Homo sapiens: one gene and its partners. The protein of the gene in region 1 purifies or fractionates together with the protein of each later gene. This does not show direct contact. Each region holds a gene or a part of one and is shown in the gene's direction. Other genes may lie near its edges. The genes, in order: PANK2, KIF13B, QRICH2, DHX36 and RASGRF2.

The links.
Region 2: the proteins of PANK2 (region 1) and KIF13B purify together in Homo sapiens (affinity purification with mass spectrometry, with the first as the bait; one large-scale study listed by BioGRID). This does not show direct contact.
Region 3: the proteins of PANK2 (region 1) and QRICH2 purify together in Homo sapiens (affinity purification with mass spectrometry; one large-scale study listed by BioGRID and IntAct). This does not show direct contact.
Region 4: the proteins of PANK2 (region 1) and DHX36 purify together in Homo sapiens (affinity purification with mass spectrometry; one large-scale study listed by BioGRID and IntAct). This does not show direct contact.
Region 5: the proteins of PANK2 (region 1) and RASGRF2 purify together in Homo sapiens (affinity purification with mass spectrometry; one large-scale study listed by BioGRID and IntAct). This does not show direct contact.

What each region holds. Positions count from the first base shown.
Region 1 is NC_000020.11:3,886,740-3,894,025, forward strand, and holds the start of PANK2 (pantothenate kinase 2, mitochondrial isoform 7 precursor), read left to right. Parts: upstream 1-2,691; coding exon 2,692-2,989; intron 2,990-3,076; exon of another isoform or gene 3,077-3,193; intron 3,194-4,504; exon of another isoform or gene 4,505-4,672; intron 4,673-7,286.
Region 2 is NC_000008.11:29,139,541-29,146,221, reverse strand, and holds part of KIF13B (kinesin-like protein KIF13B), read left to right. Parts: intron 1-3,918; coding exon 3,919-4,065; intron 4,066-5,604; coding exon 5,605-5,754; intron 5,755-6,030; coding exon 6,031-6,159; intron 6,160-6,681. UniProt on the Homo sapiens protein: Involved in reorganization of the cortical cytoskeleton. Regulates axon formation by promoting the formation of extra axons. May be functionally important for the intracellular trafficking of MAGUKs and associated protein complexes.
Region 3 is NC_000017.11:76,293,023-76,299,703, reverse strand, and holds part of QRICH2 (glutamine-rich protein 2), read left to right. Parts: intron 1-4,281; exon of another isoform or gene 4,282-5,682; coding exon 5,683-6,681. UniProt on the Homo sapiens protein: Has an essential role in the formation of sperm flagella and flagellar structure maintainance. It acts as a suppressor of ubiquitination and degradation of proteins involved in flagellar development and motility.
Region 4 is NC_000003.12:154,279,488-154,282,987, reverse strand, and holds part of DHX36 (ATP-dependent DNA/RNA helicase DHX36), read left to right. Parts: intron 1-2,125; coding exon 2,126-2,225; intron 2,226-2,318; coding exon 2,319-2,409; intron 2,410-3,500.
Region 5 is NC_000005.10:81,224,022-81,230,702, forward strand, and holds the end of RASGRF2 (ras-specific guanine nucleotide-releasing factor 2), read left to right. Parts: intron 1-1,656; coding exon 1,657-1,749; 3' UTR 1,750-6,141; downstream 6,142-6,681.

The sequences.
Region 1 (7,286 bases):
AATCATAGATTTACCTTACTCTGCTCCAAGGCAATTTTTCAACTTTTTAAAAAATAAATGTTTTCTTTCAGTATAATACCCAAAAAAGTGCACAAAATGTCTTGATAACATATTACAAAGGGAACACACCCATGTAACCCCCACCCAGATCAAAGAAACAGAATATCATTAGCCATCTAGAAGCCCATTTGGTCATCTTCATTTTCTTTTTTTTTTTTTTTTTGAGGCAGAGTCCCACTCTGTTGCCCAGGCTGGAGTGCAGTGGTGCAATCTCAGCTCACTGCAACCTCTGCATCCCAGGTTCAAGCAGTTCTTCTGCCTCAGCTTCTGGAGTAAGTGGGATTACAGGCACGCACCACTACGCCCAGCTAAGTTTTGTATTTTTAGTAGAGACAGGGTTTCACCATGTTGGGCCAGGCTGGTCTGAAACTCCTGACCTCCAGTGATCCGCCCGCCTCAGCCTCCCAAAGTGCTTGGATTACAGGCATGAGCCACTGTGCCTGGCCTAATTTTTTTTATTTTTTATTTTTTGTAGAAGTGGTCTCGAACTTGTGGTGTGCCTTCTTATTTATTTATTCATTTTTTTTTAGAGACGGAGTCTCACTGTCTCCCAGGCTGGAGTGCAGTGGCACGATCTCGGCTCACTGCAACCTCCGCCTACCGGATTCAAGTGACTCTCCTGCCTCAGCCTCCCAAGTAGCTGGGATTACAGGTGCCCACCACCACGCCCAACTAATTTTTGTGTTTGTTTTTTTTAGTAGAGACGGGGTTTCCCTGTGTTGGCCAGGCTGGTCTCGGACTCCTGACCTTGTGATTCGCACGCCTCGGCCTCCCAAAGTGCTGGGATTACAGGAGTTGAGCCACTGCGCCCGGCCGCTTTCTTTTGGTTATCATAAGGCGGGCAGTAGCTGAACTTCTCAGGAGTCCAAGCTCTGTCATTCTTTAGGCTTTGTGCTTCTGGATAAGTTACCTCATCATCCAAATGTTACTGCAAGGACTAAGTGAGATGTAGAGGCAGTGGGCAAATTGTGTAAAAATACTACTGTTTCAAGTGTTTTGATGTTGGAGTTCATCTTGCCAGCCAAGGGATGATGATACTTTGATTCTTCAGGATGATCAGAGCTCAGACTTGGACGGAAGCTCCCTCAGGTCAAGGAGGACCACATTTTTTGGGGGGTGGAGAGAGGAGGCAGAAAGAGAGGCAATGTCAGGCACTGAGATTTAGAAGAGTAGCTATAGCTGTTTTTGGTTCTTGTAGATCCGTCTGTGTTGGCTTCCTACAGGAGCTAGAATTTTCAGAGCTAGTCCTACAGTGAGGGGAGCTAACGTGGAGTGGGCGTGAGAATTCTATTCAGCAAGCACAAGCGAAGCTCAACCTTTTTGTTCAGCCTGCTACAACCAATCATTATGGGAGAGGGGAATAAGGATCACTGCCCAAGGGGCATTAGGATCACTGCCCAGTGGGCATTACAGTCTCCCCAGGGAGGCACTCTTTTTTATTTTTTATTTTTTTTGAGACGGAGTTTCGCTCTTGTTGCACAATGTTGGGTCACTGCAGCCTCCGCCACCCGGGTTCAAGCAATTTTCCTGCCTCAGCTTCCCAAGTAGCTGGGATTATAGGCATGGGCCACCACGCCCCGCTAATACGGAGGCACTTTTAATTAGCCCACAGTCCAGTGAAATTTGACGGAGTGAGGAAGTGACCTCAGAGTACAGAACGGGATGGGATCCTTCCGGGCTTGGGCAGCCTTTGGTAGTGGGGATGCTTGGAAGGGTCAGGGTCTCAGTCCTGGAGGTGACCAATTTTTCTCTCCAAAAGAGAAAGGAAGATGATTAAAAAAAAAATCCATGCTCCAAAGCGGCAGCCAAATCCTTCTATGGCCCCCAATGCATCACCCAGAAAGGGGCTCCAGACTCTCCTGCAAAAGGCCAACTCTACTTCCCGGCTCCCACTTCCCCTCCTTCGCCACAGGAGGGTGGCGAAGGATTTATAACCCACCTCTTTCTTTCAGTTGCCATGGAGACAAGCCCCAGTCCTTTCATTCCTTCTGGTACCTCTCTCTCCAACGCAGGCGGAAAGGAGGCGGCTTAGCCCAAACATGCTGGGGGAGGGGCTGGCGGCCTCGACGGCAGCTGCGGAACTAGGCCGAGGGACAAAGGCTAAGGTCAGCCGCGGTTCAAGCCCTTTCGTCTGCCGACGACCAGCGGCCAGACGCTGCGGGAGCACTGCTGGGCTGGAGGAGGGCTCGAGCTGCGAGGACGGCACGGAGCAGCGGGGTGGGACTCGGGGTCGCCCCAGGAGAGTTCCGCGGCCCGGGGGGGCAGAGGCATGCACAAGTGGGGGGCGGAAGGAGGGGGTGGATGAGGAGGCTCGGGCCCTTCCACCCACGCGTCCATTGGGCGGCGCCGCCATCACTCTCTTCTGGGCTACACCGCCTTCTCTTCCTCCGCGGAACCCGGATCCCCTCCTCCACCACCCTCTCCCCGCCCCGTCACGATAGCCTCTCATTGGACGGAGGCACGGTCAATCCTCCTCGAGTTAGGGAGCCGACTGGACGCGAGGCCTTTGGGCCGTCCCCAGCCTCGTCGGATTGGCTTCCTGCGCGTTGGCGCAACGGAAGAGGCGGCCGGCCGAGGGCGCGCCTCTGCTCTGGCTGGACTGCCGCGGAGGAGGCGAGAAGGAATCCGACGCTGGGGGGCTTGCTCGGGCGGCAGCGACTGCTGCTGCGGATGGGAGGGGGCCGGCTCGGCGCGCCCATGGAGCGCCACGGCAGGGCTTCCGCCACCTCCGTCTCGTCGGCTGGGGAGCAGGCGGCCGGGGACCCCGAAGGGCGGCGGCAGGAGCCACTGCGGCGCCGGGCGAGCAGCGCGTCGGTGCCCGCGGTCGGGGCCTCGGCTGAGGGCACGAGGCGGGATCGACTGGGCTCTTACAGCGGCCCCACCTCGGTCTCCCGCCAGCGCGTCGAAAGCCTGAGGAAAAAGCGGCCGCGTAAGTGTTCCGTGGGGCGCCCTCCCGGCCCGCCCTGCCCCCCCTTCCGGCCCACCCTGTCCCCTTCCGGCCCCGCCGCCGTTTTTCCCGCGCGCGGACACTGTCCCCGCACGGTGGTCCCTCGTTGGTGCGTGGCCTGACATCCGGCTGGAGGCCTCGGGTGCTCCGAAAGCGGTACCTTCGGGGGCCCCCCCGCACCCATTGGTATGCACTTCCCGCTTGTTGGAGTGGAGGGCTTTTCCCCAGGACCTGTCCTCCCTTTTCTTAGCTCCTTGGGCATTCTCTTCCTGAGGGTCACATGATTTTATCCTCGAGAAGGCTTCTTTTGACTCATTTCCACCTCCTTTCCTCCCAAATCCTTTGAATCCCCAATGTTTGTTTTCCGTGGGTTTCCAAAGAGCTGCTCTCTAATACTTTAAGTCCCTTTTATTCGTCAATTTCGGGCTTACTGGAAAATGGTGAACTGCCCCTTGAGTTGCACCAGGCCTGAAACTGTATTCCGTGCACCTCTAAGGTGGCTGCCCTTCTTCTCGTGAGAATCCAGGTCATCTCTCACCCACATATCCCCTCCGTTTTCCTTCTGTCTATTTGCAGGTACTCACGATTCAGAACTGTGGCATTCTGGGCATTAAGGCTCTTTGTTTTGAGGGGAAACAACATCTTTCTGAATTTTGCCTTGGGAGTTGCATACGCTCCTCCCAGAGAATCCGTTTCCCCATTTTATTAGGTTTCTTTTTCTGTGTTGTGTATTTTCTCCCCTTTACAAGTCTTCAATTCAGGACCGCTGCCTGGCAGCCATTGCTGCTGTTGAAAGTATCAATTGTCCTGATACTGTAATATGAGCTTTACAGTGTGATGCCATTTTACATATGGTTGGACTTTTTGGTGGGTGTTGCCAGATTCCTATTTCAGGAAATTGACTTGTTTAAATGCAGATTGTGAGAGGGAGGGAAAATGGCAAGATGTGAGATTTTTATTGAATAGTCTTCTACCTTAGCCCAGTCACCCAACTGCTTTTTTGAATCTTCTCTGATATGGATGATTAAATGTAGTTCTATTTTGCTGTGAAAAGTTTGGGAGTTTTCAGTTCTTTTGTCTTTTTCCATCTTCTTGCAACAGATTTGGAAAACAGATTCTTAACCTGTGCCATTTTCAGAGTCAGTCACCTAGTTTTGTTTTATTTGAGAAGCACCTGAGTTTGAAGCAATGCAAAATATGAGATCCTTCATGGTTTTGTATTACATCGTTGGAAATGGATGTAAATTCCAAAGATTCAGCAAATAAGAGTATAGCCATTAGCCACAAGGGTTTTTTTGGTTTGTTTTTTGTTTTTTACTTTGAGACAGCGTCTTGTTCTGTTGCCCAGGCTGAAGTGCAGTGGCATGATCATGGCTCATTGTGGCCTTAACCTCCTGGGCTCAAGCCATCCTCCTGCTTCAACCTCCTGCATTGCTGGGACTAAAGGCACGTGCCACTATGCCAGGCTAATTTTTCAATTTTTATTTTTTTAAATAGAGATGGGATCTCTTATGTTGCCCAGGCTGGTCTTGAATTCCTCCTGGTCTCAAGCGATCTTCCCACTTCGGCCTCCCAAAGTGCTGGGATATAGACGGGAGCCATTGTGCCCGACCTGGCAGTCGTCTACTAAGAGCTTTGGTAACTCATTAGCCTCGTGGCTCTGAGGTAGGTGGTAGTATTCCATTTTACAGATGAGAAAACTGGGACACGTTTGCCCGGTCAAATGGCTAGTGCGTTGTGAAATAGAAATGTAAACTCAGAATTGCTAGCTTCATAGCTTTTGCGGTGGACCACTGTGTTTTTCTGAATTATTTACGTTCTGTTAGTTATTTCTTCATTGCTCTAAGACCAAGCATAAGTTTGATCTTTTGTGTTCAAGACTGACTTACTTGAGGCGAAAATTTTTAGATACTGTGGAAGTACTTCCAAATATTGAGCATGAGAATGACCTGGTAAAAGTGCAGATTCAGTGGGCCCAGTTAAGCTCCTCATATTCAAATACAGGTGACTCAAAGACCACACTCAGAAAAACCGGTTTACACTGGGTGGGGAGAATTATATTAAGGTAGTTTTGAAACTTATTTTAGGGAACTAAGTAGACACATATTCATGCTATAGGATTTATATTTTGTTTTGATGTTTGATGTTTGTCGTGATTCCCTTCATTATCTTCTCTGGCTGATAAATCATGAAAACCCATCTTTCCAGTATAAGACCTGCTAAAGGAATGAACAGGATACTGATTGTTCTTCCTTCCATTTGTTTCTTCTGTACTATCTAGGGGTGCCCCTGTTAGGTGGAGAAGCAGGCTGGGCGCAGTGGCTCATGCCTGTAATCCCAGCACTTTGGGAGGCCAAGGCGGGTGGATCACCTGAGGTCAGGAGTTCGAGACCAGAGACCAGCCTGGCCAGCATGTTGAAACCCCGTCTCTACTAAAAAATACAAAAATTAGCTGGGCGTGGTGGTGCATGCCTGTAATCCCAGCTACTCAGGAGGCTGAGGTGGGAGAAACATTTGAACCTGGGAGGTGGAGGTTGCAGTGAGCCGAAATTGTGCCAGTGCACTGCAGCCTGTATGATACAGTGAGACTCCTCAAAAAAAAAACAAAAAAAAAGGAGAAGCAGCTTGTTGACTGCCGAACCCTCCTAGAGTATACTTCAGTCTTATCTCTGAGAGAATTCAACTAAGACTAAATCTTTTTTATTTATTGTTGGGAGGTTTGGGTATGGAATGGTGCCACCTTTCTGGTGAAACCCTATCTCTACTAAAAATACAAAAAAATTAGCCGGGTGTGGTGACGCGTGCCCGTAGTCGCAGCTACTCGGGAGGCTGAGGCAGATAATTGCTTGAACCCGGGAGGCAGAGGTTGCAGTGATCGAAGATCGCGCCACTGCACTCCAGCCTGGGCGACAGAGCGACTCTGTCTCAAAAAAAAAAAAAAAAAAGCCTTACTCTGATACCGCACTACTTGTCTAAAGGTGCAGATAGATACTAGTTGTCATTTGAAAGTCGAAGGAGCTATTCAGGTTATCTTAGGCATTCTTGTGGTCCTGGTTGTAGTCGTGTTCTGTCACGCGTTTCCTAGAGCAGTGTAGTTCCCAAACCGGCCCTTGTCCCAGACTTACTGCATCAGAATCCCTAGCGATGAGGCTAGGCATGTGTATATTTAAGTTCTTCAAAAGTTTTGCATCAGGTGGGGAGGGGGGTATGTCTCGCAGGGCTGAAAGAAATACCAAATAAAGATTGATTTTAAAATGATGGAAACCAAGACGCTAATGATGGTAATGTAGCTACCATTTTCTGAGTGCTTATTTGTCTTGGACACTATGCCGAGTATTTTATAAGCATCTTGGTTAAGTCTCATAGCTATCCTGTGAGGTAGGTGTTTTTTATCCCCAATTTCCAGATGAGAAAACAGGCTCAGTGAAATTGTCCTTTTGTCCAAGGCCATATAGTGAGTTAGTGATGGAGTTGGGTTTTGATTCCTGGTGTCTTGACTTCAGATCCAGTGTTCTTGGTCCACATTTTGGGGTGGGGGAAGGTATGTGTGATGTAATCCAGAGCTGTGGTTCTCAAGTTTTTAAAACTTTCCCTCAACCTACCATTGCATGATATAGGTCTGCAAAGGGGTCTAAAATTATATTTTAAATTTTATTGAGGCATAATTAAATAGAGTAAAATGTACAATTTTGGCAAATGTAGACACTCATGTAACAAGAGAACATACATTTTTATCAAGGGCTCCAGGTGTTGAGCATATGTGCAGCAGGTGTGCAGAAGGTGTGGAAGCCCTGTGATCAGAGTGCTCCACAGTAGTGTGGACAACAAACTTATCCTTTGAAGATGACTCGCAAGGCATGTTGTAGCATGCCAGGGAGACCTTTGGGGCTTGTTGATTTTGGACTCCTACAAATCTAACCTTCATAATACAGTTTTTGTTTGTAGCTTGACAACACTAGCCTAGAAAATGGATCATTTTTTCTTGGCTTTCCGAGGAGCGTTGCTGTTGGCAGTATGGAACTGGAGCCGGGGCCCTGTTAGGCTGCCTTTATTAGGCTCAGCATTTCAGCTTCAGGGAATTAGGACGGATTGACCCCTGGGAGCTGAGGAAAAATGTTAGATTGCTATAGCTTTGTGGCCCATTGGGAGAGGCAAGATGGGAGTTTTTTTTTTGTTTGTTTTTTGTTTTTTTTTTTTTTTTTTTAGAGGAGTTTCACTCTTGTTGCCCAGGCCAGAGTGCAGTGGTGCAATCTTGGCTCACTGCAACCTCTGCTTCCTG
Region 2 (6,681 bases), on another chromosome or scaffold:
ATTCTCTACCTTTGAGTGTATGTATATTTTATCTGCTAGGGGAATATACTCTGCATCTCACCTGGCCCTGACAGTTCATTTCACTCAACTTTCTTCCTTCAAATCTGTTTAAATTCTTTCTTAGAAGTCTTTTCTGATTAATCTTCCCCGAATGTCTTTTTTTCCTTCCTTATGCTACCACTCTACAACCCCTTCTCCACAAGTTAGGTGTTCATTTTGCTTATGTTATTTTCTACTTGGAATAGCTTGCTCTGTAAAACTGCTCATTAGTTGTGTCATGGTGTCATGTATATATTCAGGATCATACTTTTTTTGGTATAATAAATTTAATAAAATGTAGGGGGAAAGTCCCATCACAATCTTCTATCTTTGCCATTCAGTTGGGTTTTTTTCCTTCATCTTTTTTTTTTTTTTTTGAGGTTCTTTTCTAGCTCTTGATCACATTCATACATAATTTTTGATGGATTAGGTAGAATTTTCTATTCAGATGAATTTTTTGTGGATCCGTGTGTTCTGTTTAGCCTGCGGTAGTCAACACAGCAAAACTTTAATCAATCCATCTTGGATATTCTATTTTTCTTTTTTTTGTTTGAGAGGGAGTCTTACTCTGTCACCCAGGCTGGAATGCAGTGGTGTGATCCTGGGTCACTGCAGCATCTGCCTCCTGGGTTCAAGCGATTCTCCTGCCTCAGCCTCCTCAGTATCTGGGATTACAGGTGTGTGCCACCACGCTGGACTAATTTTTGTATTTTTAGTAGAGATGGGGTTTTGCTGTGTTGGCCAGGCTGGTCTCAAACTCCTGACCTCAAGTGATCCACCTGCTTTGGCCTCCCAAAGTGCTGGGATTACAGGCGGATATTATTCTAATTTGATAGCAAGGATTACATCTTTCCCTATGACATCATAGCATCAAGGTCAGCGTTTTGTACAGGGTTAGATATTTGGCAAATATGATTCTTAGTATTTTGAGAAAGGTATTGTAAATATGATATGATCGTTACTTTACAGATCATTGTTTTTGTATACTCTGTGTGTATTTTGAAAATTTTTACTTAATTAGAACACTAGTATTTGTAGGGCAAAGTCTGGGTACAGTAGGACTCACCAAAAACCGAAGAGGAAGGCCAGTCACAAGGAGAAGGTTCAGGGCCTAGTTTCTCCTTGAAGGCTGAGAAGTACAAGATCCTCTTTGATTTTATAGTGTATAAGTTGAAAAAAGCAGAAACCTGAAAGATTTTTCCCCAGTAAGCATGACCGCAGCCCTTTTCTCCGTAACCTCTTTTGGGCTTTGTTGAAAGGTGTGGCTCTGCACTGGGGCAGCCATGTCAACGCCTGGAAGAACTCATGTCGCCTGGCATCTCTCCTTAGTTAGGCTGACTCTGTAGTCTTTCGTGCAACAGACTATTTTTTGGTATTTGAAAAGTTGTTTAAAGTCCTGTCCATTCTGTGAACTCTTCTCTGGTGAATTTTTTTCTTATTTCCAGTTTTGCAAGAGGGCTAAGTTATGGTAGCTGCACCATATTGCCCGTTGCTATTATAGTCCCAGGTCCAGCATTCTCCCCCAGGAAAGCCACTACCCACACAGGTCACAAATGGGATTTTTGTATTTATTCACTGGCTGGCTGAATATAAGGTAGGAGGGCCTTTAATTTTGACTGTAAGATGGCCGGGCATGGTGGCTCATGCCTGTAATCCCAGCACTTTGGGAGGACAAGGTGGGCGGATCACCTGAGGTCAGGAGTTCGAGACCAGCCTGGCCAATATGATGAAACCCCATCTCTATTAAAAATACAAAAATCAGCCAGGCGTGGTGGCAGGCGCCTGTAATCCCAGCTGCTTGGGGGGCTGAGGCAGGAGAATCACTTGAACCCAGGCGGAGGTTGCAGTGAGCCGAGATTGGGCCACTGCACCCCAGCCTGGGCGACAGAAAGAGACTCTGTCTCAATTAAAAAAAAACACACACACGCATTTTGACCGTAAGAATTCTCAAATGTTTGTTTTATTATTTAAATTTTTTTCTTAGAAAATGATTGTAGGCAAGATGTTAATGAAACATCAATGTATTTCAAAGTTCTCTTCAGTTTTAAGTAGAACATTTGAAAAATTAAGCCAGTAAACCTAAATTGATTAGATAACCAGTAGATATGTCTCCCTCGGGGAAATGTATAGGGGCTTTTTTTTTTTTAACTTTGTGGTTTTTTAAAAGTTCTAAAATTTTTTCTACATTAAAAACACATTGCTCAAGTTCTACTCTGAAAAAAATCCACATTGCTCTTATAAGCTGGAAAAACTTCAGAGCATACTTTTTTTGGGGGGGAGGTGTGATACTTGCATAATAGAACATTACTTTTTTTTAATTTTATTATTATTATTTTTTTTGAGACAGAGTCTTGCTTTGTTGCCCAGGCTGGAGTGCAGTGGCGCGATCTCGGCTCACTGCAACCTCCTCTTGGGTTCAAGCGATTCTTCTGCCTCAGCCTCCTGAATAGCTGGGACTACAGGCGCCCACCACCATGCCTGGCTAATTTTTGTATTTTTAGTAGAGACGGGGTTTCACCATATTGGCCAGGCTGGTCTCAAACTCCTGACCTTGTGATCTGCCTGCCTTGGCCTCCCAAAGTGCTGGGATTACAGGCGTGAGCCACCACACCTGGCCAAACATTACTATTTTAAAGTGAATAACTCAGTGGCATTTGGCACGGTAATAATGTGGTGTGAGCACCGCTTCCATCTAGTTCTGTATGATCTTAATAAGAAACCCAAACAATGCATATTTGGAAACTGGTATCATTAATTGCTTCCACGTGGGTGAATCGGGGACTTTTCAGTTTACTCTTTTAAGTGTTTCATGTTTTATACCCCCTGAAGATGCCATCCATTACAATAAAACAAAATTCAGCCTCTGAGAGGGACGTTTCTTCCCCATACACCGCAGCAAACTTTCCCTCTCTCCCCATTGATAACGTTGTGGTCATATGGTGGCCTGAATAAAATACTTTTATTTCAACTTGCTGTTAAATGTGGTCTTTTGGGTTTTAAACTTAAAATCATTTCCAACTACAGTCAAAATTTAAATGTGGTGGCTCATGCCTATAATCCCTGTGCTTTGGGAGGCTGAAGCAGGGGGATCACTTGAGGCCAGGAGTTCCAAACCAGCCTTGGCCATATAGCAAGACCCTGTCTCTATGCAAAACAGACAAAATTAGCTGGGTGTATTGGCATGCACCTGTGGTCCTAACTACTTGGGAGGCTGAGGCAGGAGTATCACTGGAGCCCAGGAGTTCGAGGCTGCAGTGAGCTATGACGTGCCACTGCACTCCAGCCTGGGTGACAGAGTGAGATGCTGTCTCTTTACACACACACACATGTATATATTTATTTATTTTTGAGAGTCTCATACTGTCACCTAGGCTGGAGTGCAGTGGCAAGACTTCAGCTCACTGCAACCTCTGCCTCCTGGGTTCAAGCAATTCTTGTGCTTCAGCCTCCCAAGTAGCTGGCATTACAGGCACGTGCCACCACACCCGGCTAATTTTTGTATTTTTAGTAGAGAGGGGTTTCACCATGTTGGCCAGGCTGGTCTTGAACTCCTGACCTCAAGTTATCCACCTGCCTTGGCCTCCCAAAGTGCTGGGATTACAGGCGTGAACCACCATGCCCAGCAACTCCCCCCAAAAAATTTTTAATGTAAGTTTATACTTAAAGTGAAGTTTATAAATAGGTTTTGATTGCACTTGGGTAGGAAGGTATTATGTTATAGCTTGTAAGACTTTTTGGAGGCTTTGTAATCAACAGATTAAAGGATGATTGCCATTTGAGTTTTGGTGTAATGACATTTGACTGATGGGGGTGGAATTGTCAGCTTTGACTTCCCCGCTGCCTGTGTGTTTCTCACGGTCATTCTTACTCTCTTTGCAGCGAGGCTCTCTTCTTAGTGAGCCTGCAATCCAGGTGAGAAGAAAAGGAAAAGGAAAGCAGATTTGGTCTTTGGAAAAACTGGACAACAGGCTGTTGGATATGAGAGACCTTTATCAGGAGTGGAAAGAGTGTGAAGAAGATAACCCAGTAAGTTATTTAAGAGAAAATCACTTAATTGGTAATTATGGAAGGAGCCAAGCTGGAATGAGTCTACCCATTTCAGGGGAAAATTGTTCTTTTTCCAAAATTATAATCCTATTTCTGGAGTAAGGTTTATTTTAATCCCCTAAATTGTTTAGCAAATTAACAATTTTAATAATCTCTCTTTCTGGTATCTTCTTTTTTCTTCTCATTTCTGTCTTTTAGATTTCTAGCAGAATTCTCCACTTTCCATTCTGACTTCTGTTGGTGTGCGGGTGTCTGTCTCCTGTGCTCTCTGGGAACCTCTTTAGGACAGAGGCCAGGCCTCATTATTTGTCTCTCCTCCCATTGCTCAACCCGTTTAACCTTGCAGATAATAAACCTACAATATATGTTTTGTAAGTTGAACATCGGTGGTATCTTAATATTTACACTCCAAGGAGCATTTTTGAAGAAGTTTTGATCATAACATAAATGCCATAAATCTATACATTGGTACTCTGTCCTTAACTTGCAGGTTTTCTTACTTAGATCAGCCATGTACTCATACGTATTTAAAATAGAAGTGCATATTATGTATGTCTGAACATATTTTCATTACCGTTAGACCTGTTTCCGCATAGAGTTGTTTACTTCCTTTGCCTTTTGTTTTGTAAAAATGATTTTTCCAGATTGTTATCAATAAAAATGTTTCTTATAGTTAGGTGATGTTTTTGCTTAAAACATGTTTGTCTCTTTGGTACCCCTCTCCTATTTCAACTTAGAAATAAAACAACAGTAATAAATAATGAAAGAGCCACTCCCATAGGGGCTCACCTTTTTTTTTTTTTAGATGGAGTCTTGCTCTGTCATCCAGGCTGGAGTGCAGTGGCACGATCTTGGCTCACTGCCTCCTCTGCCTCCTGGGTTCAAGTGATTTTCCTGCCTCAGCCTCCCGAGTAGCTGGGATTACAGGCGCCCACCACCACACCTGGCTAATTTTTGTATTTTTATTAGAGACGGGATTTCACCATGTTGGGCAGGCTGGTCTCAAACTCTTGACCTCAGGTGACCCGCCTGCCTTGGCCTCCCAAAGTGCTGGGATTATAGGTGTGAGGGCTCACCTTTTATTAGCAGCAGTTTTATCTGATGACTTGCTAGGAATAAGCAGAGCAGATAAGAATTACTGTCTTTCCCAAAAGAAAGGTGAAGTGTAGTTTAGCACACTCTACTTCTTTTTCTGGTCAACATATATTGTTTATTTTGTGGCAAAATTTCCATGTAAAGGAGAATAGCTGATAAAAGTAATGACCTGTTACTGGGATCGCTCTGTCATGGGTGGAGGATGCTCACCTCCATTGTGAATGGGAATGAGGAAGAGTGTGTATGGGAGTAATACAGCGCTGTGCTTTAGCAAAAACTTTAGAATGTTTTACTCTAAAAAATACAAGAGTTAGGATGATGAAAGTTAAGTTTAATAACCTAGAGTGCATCAAAAAGCAGTAGGTTGAATGCATTTATTGTAAATGGTTTTTCTGAAGTTGTGTGTTCTCAATCTCTTTACAGGTAATACGATCATACTTCAAACGTGCTGATCCATTCTATGATGAGCAGGAAAATCACAGTCTCATTGGGGTGGCCAATGTCTTCCTCGAGTCACTTTTCTATGATGTGAAGTTACAATACGCTGTTCCCATCATCAACCAGAAAGGAGAGGTTGGTTTTCTCTTCATGCCTTGTTTCCTGTAGAGAATAGTTTAAGAAACAAGAGGGTGGTGATGGGATATTGTTGCTATTTTTTGTCAGTAACGTGTCTTATTAATACCTTGTGTTTCCAAGGACTCTTAGGGTAGAGTAACTGTCAGAGACTAGGCCTCTAAATTCCCATACACCATTAACCTGACAACTTGACTGTAAAAGAGAAGAGAGGTCATCTCAAGGGAGCACGAACCAAATCTGGAGAAATGTTTCTGCCTTCCCTCATTGCTGCAGGTGGCAGGTCGGCTGCACGTGGAGGTGATGCGACTCAGTGGTGATGTTGGGGAGAGGATCGCAGGAGGCGATGAGGTGGCAGAGGTCTCCTTTGAGAAGGAGACCCAGGAGAACAAACTGGTGTGCATGGTAAGTCCCAGCTTCATCCTAGTATTACGTTGATACAAAAGTCATTGCAGTTTTTGCCATTACTTTTAATGGCAAAAATCACAATTACTTTTGCACCAACCTAATAGCTGATTTTGAGAACTGCAGGTCTTTAGATGGTAAGTATTATGTTCCTTTTCAAATTTTGGAAGTAGAGCAGAGCCTCCCCCACTCATGATAATGCAAAATCGCCTCCTCCATTTCCAAACACCCGCTAGTGAGCCAGACCTGCTGGTGGCTGAGAATCCCTGCAGGAACAGTTCTTATAAAAAGAAGGTGCTGGGGGACAGGAAGTCAGCGAGGGGCGCAGGTGCAATGTACAAGTGAGAAGGAGGTGAGGTGAAGCGAAGAAGGCCTAAACCTGACTCTTAATTCATAGCTCATCCTAGAACCAGTCCTCTTTCCCAGTAAACATCTCTAGAATTGAAGCTGATGTTGAAGGGAGTAAGTTACGTGTCAGCCACAAGGTAGCGGGAAGCTGGAGCTGTTGGAGTTGGGCTGCTT
Region 3 (6,681 bases), on another chromosome or scaffold:
GTGCAGTGGCGCAATCTTGGCTCACTGCAACGTTCACCTCCTGGGTTCAAATGATTCTCCTGCCTCAGTCTCCCGAGTAGCTGAGATTACAGGCGCCCACCATCACGCCCAGCTAATTTTTGTATTTTTACTAGGGACAGGGTTTCACCATGTTGTCCAGGCTGGGCTCGAACTTCTGACCTCAGGTGATCCGCCCGCCTCGGCTTCCCAAAGTGCTAGGATTACAGGCTGGAGCCACCGCGCCCGGCCCCTCTTGCAACATCTTTCTGATGCCGCTTTCCTCTGAGAATGAGCCCTGAAATCAGAAAATGGTCCTGGAGATCCCAGGTTGTCTTTTGTACCCAGATATTTGGCGCTCCCCAAGATGGCCACTTGGTGGCGCCAAAAGCTTTACTCTTCACCCTGCTTCCGTCTACATTTTCAAATGGCCCTCAAAGTTGGCTTGCTTGTTTTGATAACCCACTAGCCCAAAGCCAGCGGGAGGGATGTCAAGACCAAAAGGGAAGTTAAGCCTCATCTTTGAGGGCCATTTGAACATATTCAGCTTGATTTTATTCAGGTGAAGGTAGGTTGGCGATCGGAAAACAATTTGGTCATCTGTACACTGTCTCAAGACAGACAGATGCATGCCTGTGTGCAAAAGTTGCCATCAGCAGAGGGCCCCCTACAGAAGTTTTATTTCCAGGGTCTGTCACCATGGCCCACTAATAAGGAAAGATCCCTGCATTTCAGGACAGACTGTAAAGAAAGTTTGAAAAGCTACAAAAGCAAATAAAAACTACACTCAGGGCCGGGCGCTGTGGCTCACACCTATAATTCCAGCACTTTGGGAAGCCGAGGCAGACGGATCACTTGAGGTCGGGAATTTGAGACCAGCCTGACCAATATGGTGAAGCCCCATCTCTACTAAAAATATAAAAATTAGCCGGGCGTGGTGGCATGCGCCTGTAATCCCAGCTACTCGGGAGGCCGAGGCAGGAGAATCGCTTGAACCCGGGAGGCAGAGGTTGCAGTGAGCCGAGATCGCGCCACTGAACTCCAGCCTGGGCGACAGAGCGAGACTCTGTCTTAAAAAAAAGACAAAGAGGTCAGACATGGTTGCTCACGCCTTTAATTCCAGTACTTAAAGTCAAGGCGGGAGAAGTGCTTGAGGCCAGGAGTTTGAGACCAGCCTAGGCAACATATTAAGACCCCGTCTCTACAAAAAGTTTTTAAAAGGTCACGTGGCCGGGGGCAGTGGCTCATGCCTGTAATCCCAGCACTTTGGGAGGCTGAGGCGGGCGGATCACCAGGTCAGGAGATCAAGACCATCCTGGCTAACACGGTGAAACCCCGTCTCTACTAAAAATACAAAAAAATTATCCGGGCGTGGTGGTGGGCGCCTGTAGTCCCAGCTACTCGGGAGGCTGAGGCAGGAGAATGGCGCCGGGAGGTGGAGCTTGCAGTGAGCCGACATTGCACCACTGCACTCCAGCCTGGGTGACAGAGTGAGACTCCGTCTCAAAAAAAAAAAAAAAAAAAATTAGCCAGAAAGCCAGGCAGCGTGGCTCATGCCTGTAATCCCAGCACTTTGGGAGGCTGAGGTGGATGGATCACCTGAAGTCAGGAGTTCAAGACCAGCCTGGCCTACATGGTGAAACCCCATCTTTACTGAAAAATTCAAAAAATTAGCCGGGCATGGTGGTGCGTGCCTGTGATCCCATCTACTCAGGAGGCTGAGGCACTGGAAACTTGGAGGCGGAGGTTTCAGTGAGCTGAGATTGTGCCACTGCACTCCAGCCTGGGTGACACAGCAAGACTCTGTCTCAAAAAAAAAAAAAAAAAAAAAAAAAACAGATTCCTAAGTAGTCCTAGCTACTTGGGAGGCTGAAGGGGGAAGATTGCTTGAGCCCAGGAGTTAAAGGTTGCAGTGAGCTGTGATCATGCCACTGCACTCCAGACTGAGTGACAGAGTGAGACCCTGTCTCTAAAGTGTGTGCTTGTGTGTGTGTAGCCATAATAACTGTTTTAATATCCATCTCTGCTAATTCTAACACATATGCCAGTGTTGAGTTGGTCTCAGTTGGTTGAGTTATCTCCTCATTATGGGTCATGTCTTCCTGCCTCTTTGTATGCCTGGCAATCTTTGATCAGGTGCCAGCCATTGTGACTTTTCCTGCATTGGATGGTACATATTTTTGTATTTTTTTTTTCTTTTGAGATGGAGTCTTGCTGTGTCGCCCAGGCCGGAGTGCAGTGGCACAATCTCTGCTCACTGCAATCTCCGCCTCCTGGGTTCAAGCGATTCTCCTGCCTCAGCCTCCTGAGTAGCTGGGATTACAGGTGTGTGCCACCATGCCTGGCTAATTTTTGTATTTTTAGTAGAGACGGGGTTTCACCATGTTGGCCAGGCTGGTTCCGAACTCCTGCACTCAGGTGATCCTCCCGCGTTGGCCTCCCAAAGTGTTGGGATTACCGGTGTGGGACACCACACCCGGCCATATTTTTGTATTCTTATACATTTTATTGAGCCTGTTTCCCCCAGGACACAGCTACTTAAAAACAGTTTGATTGCTTCAGGCCTTGCTTTTATGATTTTATGATTTGTTAGGTGGGTCCATAGGTGTGTTCAGTCTAGGGCTGATTATTCTCCATTTCTGAGGCAACACTTTTCTGAGTACACTCTGCTCTGTGCTACTTGAATGATGAGTTTTTCCAAACTGGTTGATAAGAACAGGCACCATTTCCAGCCCCATGGCAGGCAGGGCACTGCTTCTTCAAGCCCTGCAGGTGGTTCTTTCCCCAATCTTGGGACGTCTCCCCACATGCATGTACTCATCAAATGCGTGCTCATCACTCGGAGGGGATCCTCCACAGACCTCTGGAGTGGGAGTGGGCTTTCTGTCATCTCCCTTCTTTCTGGTTATTTTTTTTTTTTTTTTTTTTTGAGACAGAGCCATGCTCTGTTGCCCAGGCCGGAGTGCAGTGGTGTGATCTCAGCTCACTGCAACCTCCGCCTCCTGGGTTCAAGTGATTCTCCTGCCTCAGCCTCCCAAGTAGCTGCGACTACAAGCATGTGCCACTGTGCCTGGCTAACTTTTGTATTTTTAGTAGAGATGGGGTTTCGCCTTGTTGGCCAGGCTGGTCTCAAACTGCTAACCTCGGGTAATCCACCCACTGAAAGTTCTGGGATTACAGGCATGAGCCACCACGCCTGGATAACTCCCTTCTTTCTGATACTCTATCCTGTGACCTTCAGTTGCCTGAATCTCCCTGAATGCTCACTTCTGTCTCCTCAACTCAGAGAGTCTGCCAGACTCCACCTCAATTCCCCCTCCCTGCACTGCAGTCTGGAAACTCCAGCAAGGCAGCAAGCCAGGGTGATACAGGCTTCCCAGTTTTCCTTTCTCCACCGCTTGGGGATTATTGTCCTTCATAACTTGATATCCAGTATGTAGGAAACCACCGTTTCATAGCTGTTGTTGGGTTTGTTTGTTTTTTTGAGATAGAGTCTCACTCTGTCTCCCAGGCTGGAGTGCAATGGTGCTATCTCGGCTCACTGCAACCTCCGACTTCTGGGTTCAAGCAATTCTCCTGCCTCAGCCTCCTAAGTAGCTGGGATTACAGGCATGTGCCACCACACCCAGCTAGTTTTTGTATTTTTAGTAGAGACGGGGTTTCACCATGTTGGTCAGGCTGGTCTTGAACTCCTGACCTCATGATCCACCCACATCGGACTCCCAAAGTGCTGGGATTACAGGCGTGAGCCACTGCGCCCAGCCTCAGTTTTGTTTTTTCTTGTCACAGACAGGAGGGTAAATCCAGCCCCTGTTAACTTCATCTTGGCTGGAAATGGCAGTGGTTCATTCTTCTTTTTCATGGATTCATAGCATCTACTGTATTGGTGACCAGAAATATCTCAGTCCCTTATTGATGATCTATTTTATCAAGATGCTGCAGACCCCATCATTGTATGTATAGCTTGGCATCCTTTGGTGAGGATTCATAGAGAAAATTCCTGTCTATGGAGTTTCTGGGTCCATGGGTTTGCATGTTTACATTTTATTTATTTATTTCTTTTTGAGATGGTGTCTCGCTCTGTTGCACAGGCTGGAGTGCAGTGGCGTGATCTCGGCTCACTGCATCCTCTGCCTTTTGGGTTCAAGTGATTCTCCTGAGTAGCTGGGATTACAGGTGTGCAGTACCACACCTGGCTAATATTTTATATTTTTAGTAGAGACCAGGTTTCACCATGTTGGCCAAGCTGGTCTTGAACTCCTGACCTCAAATGATCCACCTGCCTTGGTCTCCCAAAATGCTGGGATGACAGGCGTGAGCCACTGTGCCCAGCCTATACATTTTAAATATATGGTTTACATGCATTCCAGTATACACTTTTATCAGCAGCAATGGGTCAACAATGGAGCAAACTTTATATTTTATTTTATTTTATTTATTTATTTTTTGAGATGGAGTCTTGCTCTGTCACCCAGGCTGAAGTGCAGTGGTGCGATCTCAGCTCACTGTAACCTCTGCCTCCTGGGTTCAGGCGATTCTCATGACTTGTCCTCCCAAGTAGCTGGGACGACAGGCACGTGCCACCACACCCAGCTAATTTTATTTATTTATTTATTTATTTATTTATTTATTTGTTTTTAGTAGAGACGGGGTTTCATCATGTTGGCCAGGATGGTCTCAATCTCTTGACCTTGTGATCTGCCCACCTCGGCCTCCCAAAGTGCTGGGATTACAGGCATGAGCCACCGTGCCAGACCCAGACTTTATATTTTAAACTTAATAAATTACTTATGTCCTTTATTTAAAGGCTAAGCAAAAGTCCAGAGAGATCACTTGTATTTTGCAGTTTTCCCCATCTTTTATGAAGAAAAATTACACTTTTTTTTTTTTTTTTGAGAAGGAGTCTCACTCTGTCACCCAGGCTGGAGTGCAATGGTGCAATCTCGGCTCACTGCAACCTCCACCTCCCGGGTTCAAGCGATTCTCCTGCCTCAGTCTCCTGAGTAGCTGGGATTACAGGCATGCACTATCACACCCAGCTAATTTTTGTATTTTCAGTAGAGATGGGGTTTTGCCATGTTGGCCAGGCAGGTCTCAAAGTCCTGACCTCAAATGATCCACCCGCCTTGGCCTCCCAAAGTGCTGGGACTATAAGCATAAGCCACCGCACCTGGCCACAAAAATTACATATTTTTGTACATGCCATTTTCAAATATGCAGAGTCTCAAAAATATGGAGACCTAGCCTCCCAGAACGTCAGTGTGTTTCTTTTCCTTTTCTTTTTTTTGAGATGGAGTTTCACTCTTGTCACCCAGGCTGGAGCACAATGGCACAATCTCACGGCAACCTCCATCTCCCAGGTTCAAGCAATTCTCCTGCCTCAGCTTCCTGAGTAGCTGAGATTACAGACACATGCCACCACGCCTGGCTAATTTTGTATTTTTAGTAGAGATAGGGTTTCACCATATTGGTCAGGCTGGTCTCGAACTCCTGATCTCAAGTAATCCACCCGCCTCGGCCTCCCATCAGTGTGTTTCTTTATGTCAAGCTTAGCTTTTAGGACCAGAGGGCTTTTTTCTCCAGGGGCCCTAAATCATCCTAGTCAGAACTTCCAGATTTCCTTTCTTCCCACTCTGATAGTGAATATTTTGACTGTTATTGATTTCCTTCTTCCTCTCCAACCAGGGCTCAGAAACACTTATGGGATTTTCTAAGCACGGAGGGTTCACTTCCTTAACATCACCTGAAGGGACTCTAAGCGGAGACTCTACCAAGCAACCAAGTATTGAGCAGGCTCTGGATTCTGCCAGTGGTCTTGGCCCGGATCGGACTGCATCAGGATCTGGTGGCACAGCACACCCCTCTGATGGGGTTTCCAGTAGGGAACAAAGCAAGGTCCCCTCTGGTACTGGGAGACAGCAGCAGCCGAGGGCCCGTGATGAAGCTGGCGTGCCACGACTCCATCAGTCTTCTACATTCCAATTCAAATCAGACTCAGATCGTCACAGGAGTAGAGAGAAGCTTACCTCGACACAACCAAGAAGAAATGCACGTCCTGGTCCAGTTCAACAGGACTTACCCTTGGCCAGAGACCAGCCCAGTAGTGTGCCCGCTAGCCAGAGTCAGGTCCATCTAAGGCCAGATCGTCGTGGGTTAGAACCAACTGGCATGAATCAGCCTGGATTAGTGCCTGCTAGCACTTACCCACATGGTGTGGTACCCCTCAGCATGGGTCAGCTTGGTGTGCCACCACCTGAAATGGATGATCGGGAATTGATACCATTTGTCGTGGATGAGCAACGTATGTTGCCACCATCAGTACCTGGCAGAGACCAGCAAGGATTGGAACTACCTAGCACAGACCAACATGGTCTGGTTTCAGTCAGTGCATATCAGCATGGTATGACATTTCCTGGCACAGACCAACGCAGTATGGAACCACTTGGCATGGATCAGCGTGGATGTGTAATATCAGGCATGGGTCAGCAAGGACTAGTACCCCCTGGTATAGACCAGCAAGGATTGACATTGCCTGTCGTCGATCAACATGGCCTGGTTCTACCTTTTACAGACCAGCATGGTTTGGTATCACCTGGTTTGATGCCAATTAGTGCAGATCAGCAAGGTTTTGTGCAGCCCAGTTTGGAAGCAACTGGCTTCATACAACCTGGCACAGAGCAGCAT
Region 4 (3,500 bases), on another chromosome or scaffold:
AGAGCAAGGCACAGTAGGGTTCGATTTCTGTTCCTGTCCCCACATTCTAGTTGCTATTTTGATGATTCAAACTGAGAATTTTTGCTAACACTACTAAAATCTGTTGAAAAGTATCAAATAGGATAGATATCTGTAAGTTTTCTGGTTTAGTATAGTGAAACACCACAGGCAAGCATTTGTAAAACAGAAGAAAACAGTAAAGAGGGCATATGCCATCACATTTCAGACTACACTGAACTGGGTATTCGAAGCCAGTGAGAATAGAAATATCCTCATCTTCTCCCAGTACACATACACTCCAGCTATGTGACATGAGGCCTGATACTGGACATTTAACAGATCTACAAATTAGTAAACAAAAAAATCTAACATACCAAATCAGAAGTGCCCAGTCATTAGCAAAATGGAAAAAAAGGATCACCACAATTCGGAAGGAAAGGAAAAGAAAAAAAAAAGAGTGGAATGCCATGTTTCAGTAGAAAACACCTTTAAACTGTTTCATAATATGGAATAGCTAATAAGAATATGAATTCAGCAAAACATAGGTTAGAAAATAAACAGTAGAGTGAATGAAAAGACACCTGAGCTAAGAAAACAAATTGAAGATCAAAAGAAATCACAAGGAACAGAATGGACACCCCTTAAAAACAAGTTATTGCCATAGGAAAAAAGCTTGAAGTAATCACAGTTTATGGAGGTACCTGAAAAAGACAAAAATTAAAGCAATAAGTAAAATCTTAAAGACAGGAAGACAGGACTCATCCATTATGAGAACAGTAGACATTAGTGTCTGCATACAAATCCTGTGTAATTGAACGTTTATTTTGAGATGTATGTAAGAACACGTTTTGAAATGGAAATAATGAAATGAACAGAGAAGTGAACAGAAGCATGAAAACATAACTGAATCCAAGTGTTTGAGAATGTCATGTCCAGTCAGGATATGAATTCAGGTGTAAAGAAAAACAACAGGCATTCAAGAAATACTGTACCCCTGAGCTCTTCTTGAAAAGCCCATTGACGGTGAAATGCTGTTAGTTAAAAGGGGAATCACAGTGGAGATTTCAGGAATGGAGAGTGCATGCTTAATCAGCTGGTGTATATACATTAGAAGTATTTAAATATAGAGCTAATAACAAAATGGTGTTAGGAATTACACATGCAAAATAGAATGTAAAGATTATTATCCTGAACAGTATAAAATAATGGCAGTAAAAACCAGGAGGTGTCTAAGAAAGTCAGGTGTCAGAAAAATTAGGTGGGGAAAGTCACACCTTTCATAAAAGGGATATATACTTAAATATAACCAACTTTATGTTTCATAATCTCTAAAAGGAATTCCTTAGGAAATATTTCTGTTATGAAAATACAAGATTCATCTGGTCATTCACTTTCCTTTCTATTTAACTTTTCTTTAAATTGTACTAAAGTTAATTGTTTTATAAAGAATTTCTATACTATGATTCTGTTATTAGGATGCATTTCTTCTATCAGTATATATACTTAATGGGTGTCTGCAATCTTATTTATTTAGAAGACTGAGTATTGAGGCAAGGGAAGTACTTTTCTATGTTACTTGAATGCTTTGTAATAAGCCATGTATCATTATTTAAAAAAAAAACAAAACCTTAAGCTTACCTGCCATTTTTAACCATATTTAATTCTCAGTAATAGAAATATGGATGTGGATTATTTTCTTTATGCTTTTCTATATTTTTTAAAAAATGGGGGTGGAAAGTAATTTTAAAAATTCTATTAGTCTTTCACAAAATAGAGTAATCCTTAAACATCAGTGGCTATTCCTTACAACATGCAAACTTTTTCTGTGAAAAGTCGGGTAATATTTTAGGCTTACAGGCCATAAGATCTCAGTTACAAGCATTGACCTCTGCCATTGTAGTGCAAAAACAACCAAATGTAGATGAATGGGTGTGGCTGTGTTCCAATAAAATGTTATTGACAAAAACAGCTTTTGTAGTTTGCCAACCCTTGCTTTAAAACATGTTTGCTAAAGTGTTTTCATAAAGCAGGGATAGCTTACAACTCAATTTATCTATTAGTGTATGGTTTATAGCCTCAATGTGTGAAAGGTATTCTAGTTCTATTTGTTACCATTGCTCCCTAGATGCTGCATAACATGAAAGGACAGTTTGCTGAGCATCTTCTTGGAGCTGGATTTGTAAGCAGTAGAAATCCTAAAGATCCAGAATCTAATATAAATTCAGGTACAGCAGGAAACACAGTGTAAATAAGTATCTTTTGTCTATTGTATCAGTATTTTACTTTTCTTTTCCCCTCTACCTTCTCACCCCCCATAGATAATGAGAAGATAATTAAAGCTGTCATCTGTGCTGGTTTATATCCCAAAGTTGCTAAAATTCGACTAAATTTGGGTAAAAAAAGAAAAATGTAAGCATTGAAGATTATTATTAATTACTCGTAATTCTCTTCTTAAACTTTTGAAATCTGCTCATGTAACAAGGCTTATATTATAAATTTGTTCTTATTCATATGTGGGTTATATTCTTGTTCTTTTAATCATTTCAGAGAAGGTGAACTGTTTAGCCATTGGTATCACTTTCCCTCACAACACATCCTGGAATCACCTCTTTGATAACCCATTATTCACAAAGAATGCTACCACATGATACCAGTGTAAATATTAGAAGAGCCAGCCTGCTAGTAAATACCAGTGGCTGGATAAAAATTGCTTAGAGTAGATTTTATTTCAGAAACTTTTTTCCTCTTGCCTTATAAATGGATAACTTAGCTCTTTGAATAACATTGTGATTTCACTATTTTGAGAAATAAAGTGTAATAATATATTTACAGGTAGCCTCAGTAGTAATTGGAGACAACAGTGAAGCATGAGCTAGAATGAGCTCATTCTAGCTAAAGGATACAGAGAAACTAAGAGTCACAAATGGCCAGTAGTGTGGTTGCTGCTATTTTGGAAGACACTCTGTATTAGAATTATGATTGAATCATTAAAATAGTCAGTGACCCAGTGCATGAGTTTTTAATTTGATAGATGTGTCTTAAGGAAGTAATTTCAAATGTTTTCTAACAGCTATATTGTAAATAATATAGATTTCTAGTAGCCATGGGAAAATTGTGGTTTTATAATACTGTAATGCATCTCCATAGGTGGGCATTAAAACAGTCATTGTGTAGTAACATGTAAAGTATTTAAACTGATGTTAAATGAAAGTTGGATATTCTAGAATTATAAACATGAAAAAATAAAGACTTTAAAGATAGGCCAAAGTGCAGACATTGTTCTTGGGCAGTGGTTCTCAACTGGCATGATTTTGCCCCCAAAGGGGACATTGGAAAGTGTCTGGAGATACTTGTGGTTGTCATAACAGTGTGTCAGTAGTACTAAAGTCAAGAAACCCTATTCCAAGGTATAAAGTAATGGGTAGCTGATGAATTTTAATCATTGTGGTTGGATTATTCACATTTTAAGTGACCTAAGTACTTTTTCAAAATAATACTTG
Region 5 (6,681 bases), on another chromosome or scaffold:
CCATTATTTAAAAATCAAAATATAAGCAGTAGACAATGAGACAACATTTGCAACATATACAACAAAGAAACAGAATAAAAGTGTTTCCATAATCTATAAGAAAAGCATAAACAATTCAACTGGTAAACCTGTGAATAGTTAATTCATAGAAGAAAAAAAATGACCAATAAATATTTTTTAAATGCTCAACTTCACTAGTAAAAAGAGAAAATGTAAATTAGAGTGGGACATCGTTTTCACTTATCGGATTGACAAAAATTTAAAAGATTGATAATATCAAACATTGCTTAGGGTATAGGAAAACAGGTACTGTCATGTACTGTAGGTGCGGAAGCTTTGCAGGTCATTTTCCATCATCATTTAAAATTAAAAATTGGTATATTGAATTACTGGAACTCTTACCATTGTTGGTGAGAATAAAATCGAACAATCACTTTGCAAAACTGTGCCATTTAGAAGTTTCTTAAAATGTTAAATGAGCACTTATCTTAGGACCTAGCAATTTCTCTCTTAGGTGTTTATCCAAAGGGAAAATGAAAGCATGCTCATTAAAAGCCTTGTATAAAATGTTCATAACATTTCTAAATAATAGCCCCTATTTGGGAAGAGCTCAAGTGTCCATCAACAGATGAATGGATAAACAAATTATGGTATATCTCTACAATGGACTACTACTCAGCCATGAGAGGGAGCAGACTACTGGTACAGGCCACAGCAAGGCTGAATCTCAAAACACTATGCTGAGTGAAAGAAACCACACATGAAGGAGTACACACTGTATGATCCCATCGATATGAGGTTCCAAAATAGACAGAACTAATATGTGGTGATAGAAACCAGGGCAGTGCTTGATTCCAAGAGCAGATTGACCGAGTAGGTGCATGAAGGAACTTTTGGGGATGCTGAAATTGTTATCATGAAATGTATGTAAGTTACATGGTGTATACATGTCAAAACAGATCAAACTATCTATTTCACTTTTGTGTGTTATATTTCAATAAAACTAAAGAAATATTTTCATGAAAATCCCCCATGCCCCAACATATTCATTTCTAGTGTCAATTCCTTTCCTTTCACTTCTGATATCTACCCTAGCCTAGCAGAGTATTCACGCATGCACTCCAGGAAGCATGCTAACAAGGAATTCACTGAAACTTTGTGTAACAGTGAAGTATTGACAGCAACTCAACATCTATCAATATGAGATTATTAAATAAGCTCCAATATATTGCACTATTAATACTGTATAGCAGTTAGAGCTCTATCTACTGTCACAGGGAGCTCTCTCCAACCTATCATTAAGAGATGAAAGCAGAATAAAATGTGCACCATGGTGCCAATTTTAGGGGGAAAAATGATTTCTGTAAGTACATGTAATCTCTATAAAGACATAGAAAAACAACTGGGAGAAAACAAACCAATTAGTAACAGTAGTTCCTCTTGAGGGAGGTACCTGGGATTGGGGGTTGAGAGAGGACTAGAGATGTTCACCTTTTTTTTTTTTTTTTTAACAATGGAAACATATTTATGATTTTTTGGTCAAATAAGATTTTTAGTTGTTTAAGAGAAAATGTTGAATTGTGTTAGATTCCGTCAGAAAATGTACGCACTGGTGTCTGAAAGAGGTAAAAGCTGGGACTTCCCCTTTTTTTTCAGGTCGCACAGTACTTGCTTGACAAAGACCTTATCATAGATGAAGATACGCTATATGAGCTGTCACTAAAAATTGAACCTCGACTCCCTGCTTGAAGATCTGGCCTTGCCCCTGAGTCCACGGGATGTTCATGGAAAGCAGGACAGACAGAATTGTGTATGCCTTGCCTATCACGGTACAGCACGAAGCCAGGCTCCTTTCTCCACCAAAGAAGATGGAACCAGACTGGAATTCTGTCTCCAGAGAGAAACCCAGCTGTTTGGGTCAAAGACAGATGCTTCAGACTTGGGTGGGAAGGTGAAAGATGGCTATTTAGAAAGCTGGTGGCACGTTTTACATAAGGGAATGTCAGATGGGAGATGCTAGTTGCCATTTTAACAAAGCAGGTAAATCGGTAAATTTTAAACTCTGTCCATGTTCTGTTAGAACTCAGGGACAAGGATCCATGAAAAAGACCTGTGATGTTTCTCTGGCGCTTTACTGGCCTGGGCACACCTACCAATCTTCTAGGATTTGACTGGTTCCATTACATTTCCTTTTGGTATAAGCTTCACAGAAAAGCTGACACTTCCTCTACAGAGATGGACCAAAACATAAGCAATTTCAGTCTACAGCATGTGCATGGTTGTCAGTGCATTCTAAATATTTCTATGTGAGGAATGGTACCTTCTGAAACTGCCTTTCCAGTCTTTAGGCAATGGGATAGGAAAGAAAGAATGAAACACAAATGGATTTGTATGTAACATTTCCTTAATTAAATGCAGTAGGCTGTGCCCCAGAGGATTCCAGACAGTGGCTGGCTGAGGTGGGTGGGGAGCTTTTCCTTGAGACTGTTGGTCCTAAGAAGCCAGCCCTTTTGGAGAGGCAGCTGCAAAAAGGTGCACGCCCATCTCACCGACAAAACTGTGGAACAGAAGGCCACCAAGTGCTGTGGGGAATCATGGGTTTCAGTGCTGAGTGAAAATCTATACCTAAAAATCATCTCTGCACCTTGCTTTGTTTGTTTTCTTTCCCCACTCATAGTACTGCAGGAATCTATTCTCATTTACACAGACCTTTTTTTAGGCTTACTATGAACATTGGCTGTATTTTTTTTAAACAGTTTAGTGAAATTTTCTTTTCAAAACCCACACTTCCATATGCTGTTCGTAGATCTCTTTCTTTAAAAACTGATGTTGAGAGATCTCTGAGAATATTATAAGTGCATGGGAAATGGGCCCAACCACCGAACAGCTCTTACATTACAAAACCAAATGCAAGGGTTAGTCCTGCTACCTGAGGCTGGGGAAGTGACCTTCCTTTTCCCAAGATTGTCAGTTGTTGAAGAAATAGGGCTATCTCATTGTTTACCTCCCTCTTCTCTTCTCAGGGAGACTGCTGCTTTAAAAGAAGGAAGAGAAAAAATATAGTTCTATTTCCCTGAACCTGTTGCACCTGACATTTTCTCTTAGCAGCATGAAACTTATTGATGCTGACAATGAAAAATGGATCTGTCTGGCTGCTTTCCCTCTTTCCTTGCACTTTAATTATGTTGCTAGAGCTAACAGACTAATAAATTCCACCTGCTGGCTCTTAAGACTCAGTGAAAGAGCTAGCATTGGTAATGCACCATAGAGGTAGAGAATGTACACTTTCTGCACGGTAAGTGCCATCTCTGTATGTAACTATATAGTGAAATATCAACTAAGTAAAAGAAAATATAATATTTGAAGACCATTCCCAAAATATTTTCAATAGTTCATATTAGCCAACAGTGTAGCACTCAACCCAAGGAGGGTTCCTTATGGATGCTTTCTTTTTCTTTTTTAAAGTTGCTTGTTTGTTCTCTTTAGTTTCAAATAAGAGGTTGACGCATCTTGATGCATGATGAGAAGCATGGGCTGTTTGGATCCTAACAACGCATAACTTGTGATTTATTTCTCAGTGCTCCAGAAACTGAGGGTTTGAAATAATATGTATCAGTTGCACCAAACACCTCAAGGTCTTGCAGAAGAAAAGTAAAGGTTAGCTTTCATGGCTCAAAAGCATAGTCCTGAAGGGTGAACTAAAACCGGGACAAATCTGTGAGAGGACCACACACATACTAGTTTCGGGCCAAACAACACGTGGAAAGGTGCATGCATTCTACTCTGCCTTGGAGTTGCCAGAGTCCTTCAGAGGGAAAGGGATGGTTCTGTGTGCACTTTTTCTGGAAGTTCGGACTCATTTCTTTGACCCAAATGTTCCAGAGACACTGCAGCCATTCTTATTAACAAAAAATAAGACAGGAGTTTCCAAATGCTCCTTCCCTTTTGGATCGCAGCTTTTCTTCAACTAGTGACAAAGCTTTTGCGCCTATTTCCTGCAGGATGTTGGAACTGCCCCGCACTGGTCATATTAGGCACTGTCAATTGCTATGCTGACTTTTAGGGGGTTTTTGTTTGTTTGAAAAACAGGGTCTCACCATGTTGCCCAGGCTGGTCTCGAACTCCTGGACTCAAGCAATCTTCCTGCCTCAGCCTCTCAAGCAGCTGGGACTGCAGGGGTGTGCCACTCACTAGCCTTTCGCATTTTTGTTTGAGAATTACACCACTTTCTGGAGTCTGCAGCCTTCCTGGAGCTGCAAGAGGGCAAGAGAGAGAGCTCCACCTCTGAGGGAGTGTCTGTTGATGACCTGCACTATTCGTGTGCCAGCTGGGAGAGGAATGCACATTTTAAAATCCCTTCAATTTGGTCAAATTAAAAATCCCCAAGAGCAATTTGCAGTGTTTTTTCTGGTCGTTAAAGTACCCATCCTCTTCTGCCTACACACAAAGCATGCATTCCCAGCTGCATCTGCCTCTAGTCCATTATGGAGACCCATTTCTAAGAGGAGATGGGAGGTCAACCTCTAACAGCCAAGTAGCGAACATGTATACTGTAAAATTAACCTAGAAAATCAGAAGAAAAATCCAATTTCATGCTTTCGAATGAATGCCCACATTTTGTACTGTCAACGAAATTATCTTGGAGCTTTTAGGGGATGCCTTTTCGTTATTAACTGAGACATCTAGTTTTGCTACAGGGACAAATCTCTTACCTAATCCAATATATTATTTGACAGATTCAGGCATGAAGTAAAACGTCGTCACTTTTCCTTAGTGCTTTTCTGAAGGAATTTAAAGACGGAATTTTAAACGGCCATTGCAATATTTTCAAGTGGCTCTCATACCAAGTCCCATTACTGTTTGTTAAATTTCAGTACGTCTTAAAGTACTACTTATAAACAAATGAAACTCAGAGAAACTGAATCACCTGGAAGAGAAAAATCCATTATGGTCCCATGTGGAGTGAATAATGATGGATCAGCACCCTTTCTCTCATGTTATTGTATAAGACGAGACTTTTGGGCCAGCAGCGATTGGGCAGCTTTTAAATTCTTAACTGAAAAGAGTAATGCAATACAGGGATTATTCCCAATAAAATTAACTTTTATTTAAAAGCAAGAGATTTTACTTAGCTTTTTTTTTTCAAAGTTTGATTTTATCCCCTTGAAAAAAAATCTCTTCACTTTAAAGTATAAAGGTTTTTAAAAATCCAATTGCAAAATGTATTATTTTTACAACTATCGAAAAGGCATAAAAGAGAACATACTATTTATGGCTGAAGGGTATAGCCAGGCTAATGTGCACAGAGGGAATCAATAAATAAAACTCTTTTTCATTTCAGTAAGAAATCAGATTGTAAGTTTAATGGCTCCATTATAGATACCACCGTGTAATAGAAGACTTAAGTCAATGAAATCTAATCAGTGTGTCATTTCTCAGCGGCCATTGGTGACTTAAAATTAAGATGAGGCAGAGCCAAAATGGAAAACAGTCATTTTGTTGTAGGTATAAACACATGAACGATTCAGAAAATTATTCATCTCAGCTGCCATGCAGCATGACATTAACATTAGGATTGATAGCACTAGTCTGATCTGCTCAAGGAAAATAATAGTTCTATTATACTTAATGATGTTGGTTTTTACACAGCTCATTTCATTTTTCACTAGAAAGCCAGTTATGAAAGAGAGCTGGCCTAGGCATCCCGGCCCTGAGTCCTAGGCCCAGTCTCCAACTGGAAAACCTTAGGCTGGTGTTTACACATCCCTGAGCCTCAGTTTCCTCATCTGCAAAACGGTGTGAATAGTAATCCCTGTGCTGCTTATCTCACAGGGCTATTGTGAGGACCAAATGGATTAGACTGTAAACTGCAAAGTGCTGTCCGCACATGAGGTCATCTGATTACTGTCCTCAGATCTCTTTTGTAGAGGATTTCAATGTATTTCTTTATCATTTGAGTGTGTGTGTGATGGACGAATATGTGTGTGAGTTTGAGAAGCATATCGTTCGTGTCCAGTTACTTTGCAAATTTGTGGACATTTGTGATTGGACAGAGGGGTTTGTGCTGTGGCCTAACACTTGCCAAGTGAGGTGTAGGTTATGCCTATATGCAAATTAAACTTCACCTTTCTTGAATATTCAGAAATCTCACTGGTTTCTTCATTTAACTCTTTTTCCCCCCATTTTTCTACATTGTCAACTTAAAACCATGAAATGTATACATTTAGAAAAAATAGAACTTAATTTCTTATAAAGGGTTACAATCTGCAGGCTGGAGCCTCTGGCCAAAGCCAAAAGCAAGCACTTCAGATAAAAAAGGGAGAGGCTGAGATTTATGCCCAACAAGATGAGCCTTACATATACATTTAGTAGGTTATAGGATAATCTTATGAATATTTATGAGAGGCCCTAATGCATGCATAGCCAGTAATCATATATGTTACATGTTACATACAACCCATGTTCACTTTGGGATGGAGACTTAAAATGTAGTAAAATTGGGCTCTATATGTCAAAAGATGGAACACAGGGCACAAAGACGCTTGGTGTGCAATCTCTGTAAACCGGCCAGAACCGGCTGTGGTCTGTGGTCAGTTATGAGGATGGAGTGCTTTGTAAGGCTGAACACTTGTCAGGGGGAAACTGCGTTGAGGGAAGGGGGGGTTCGCCACGTCAGGTTGT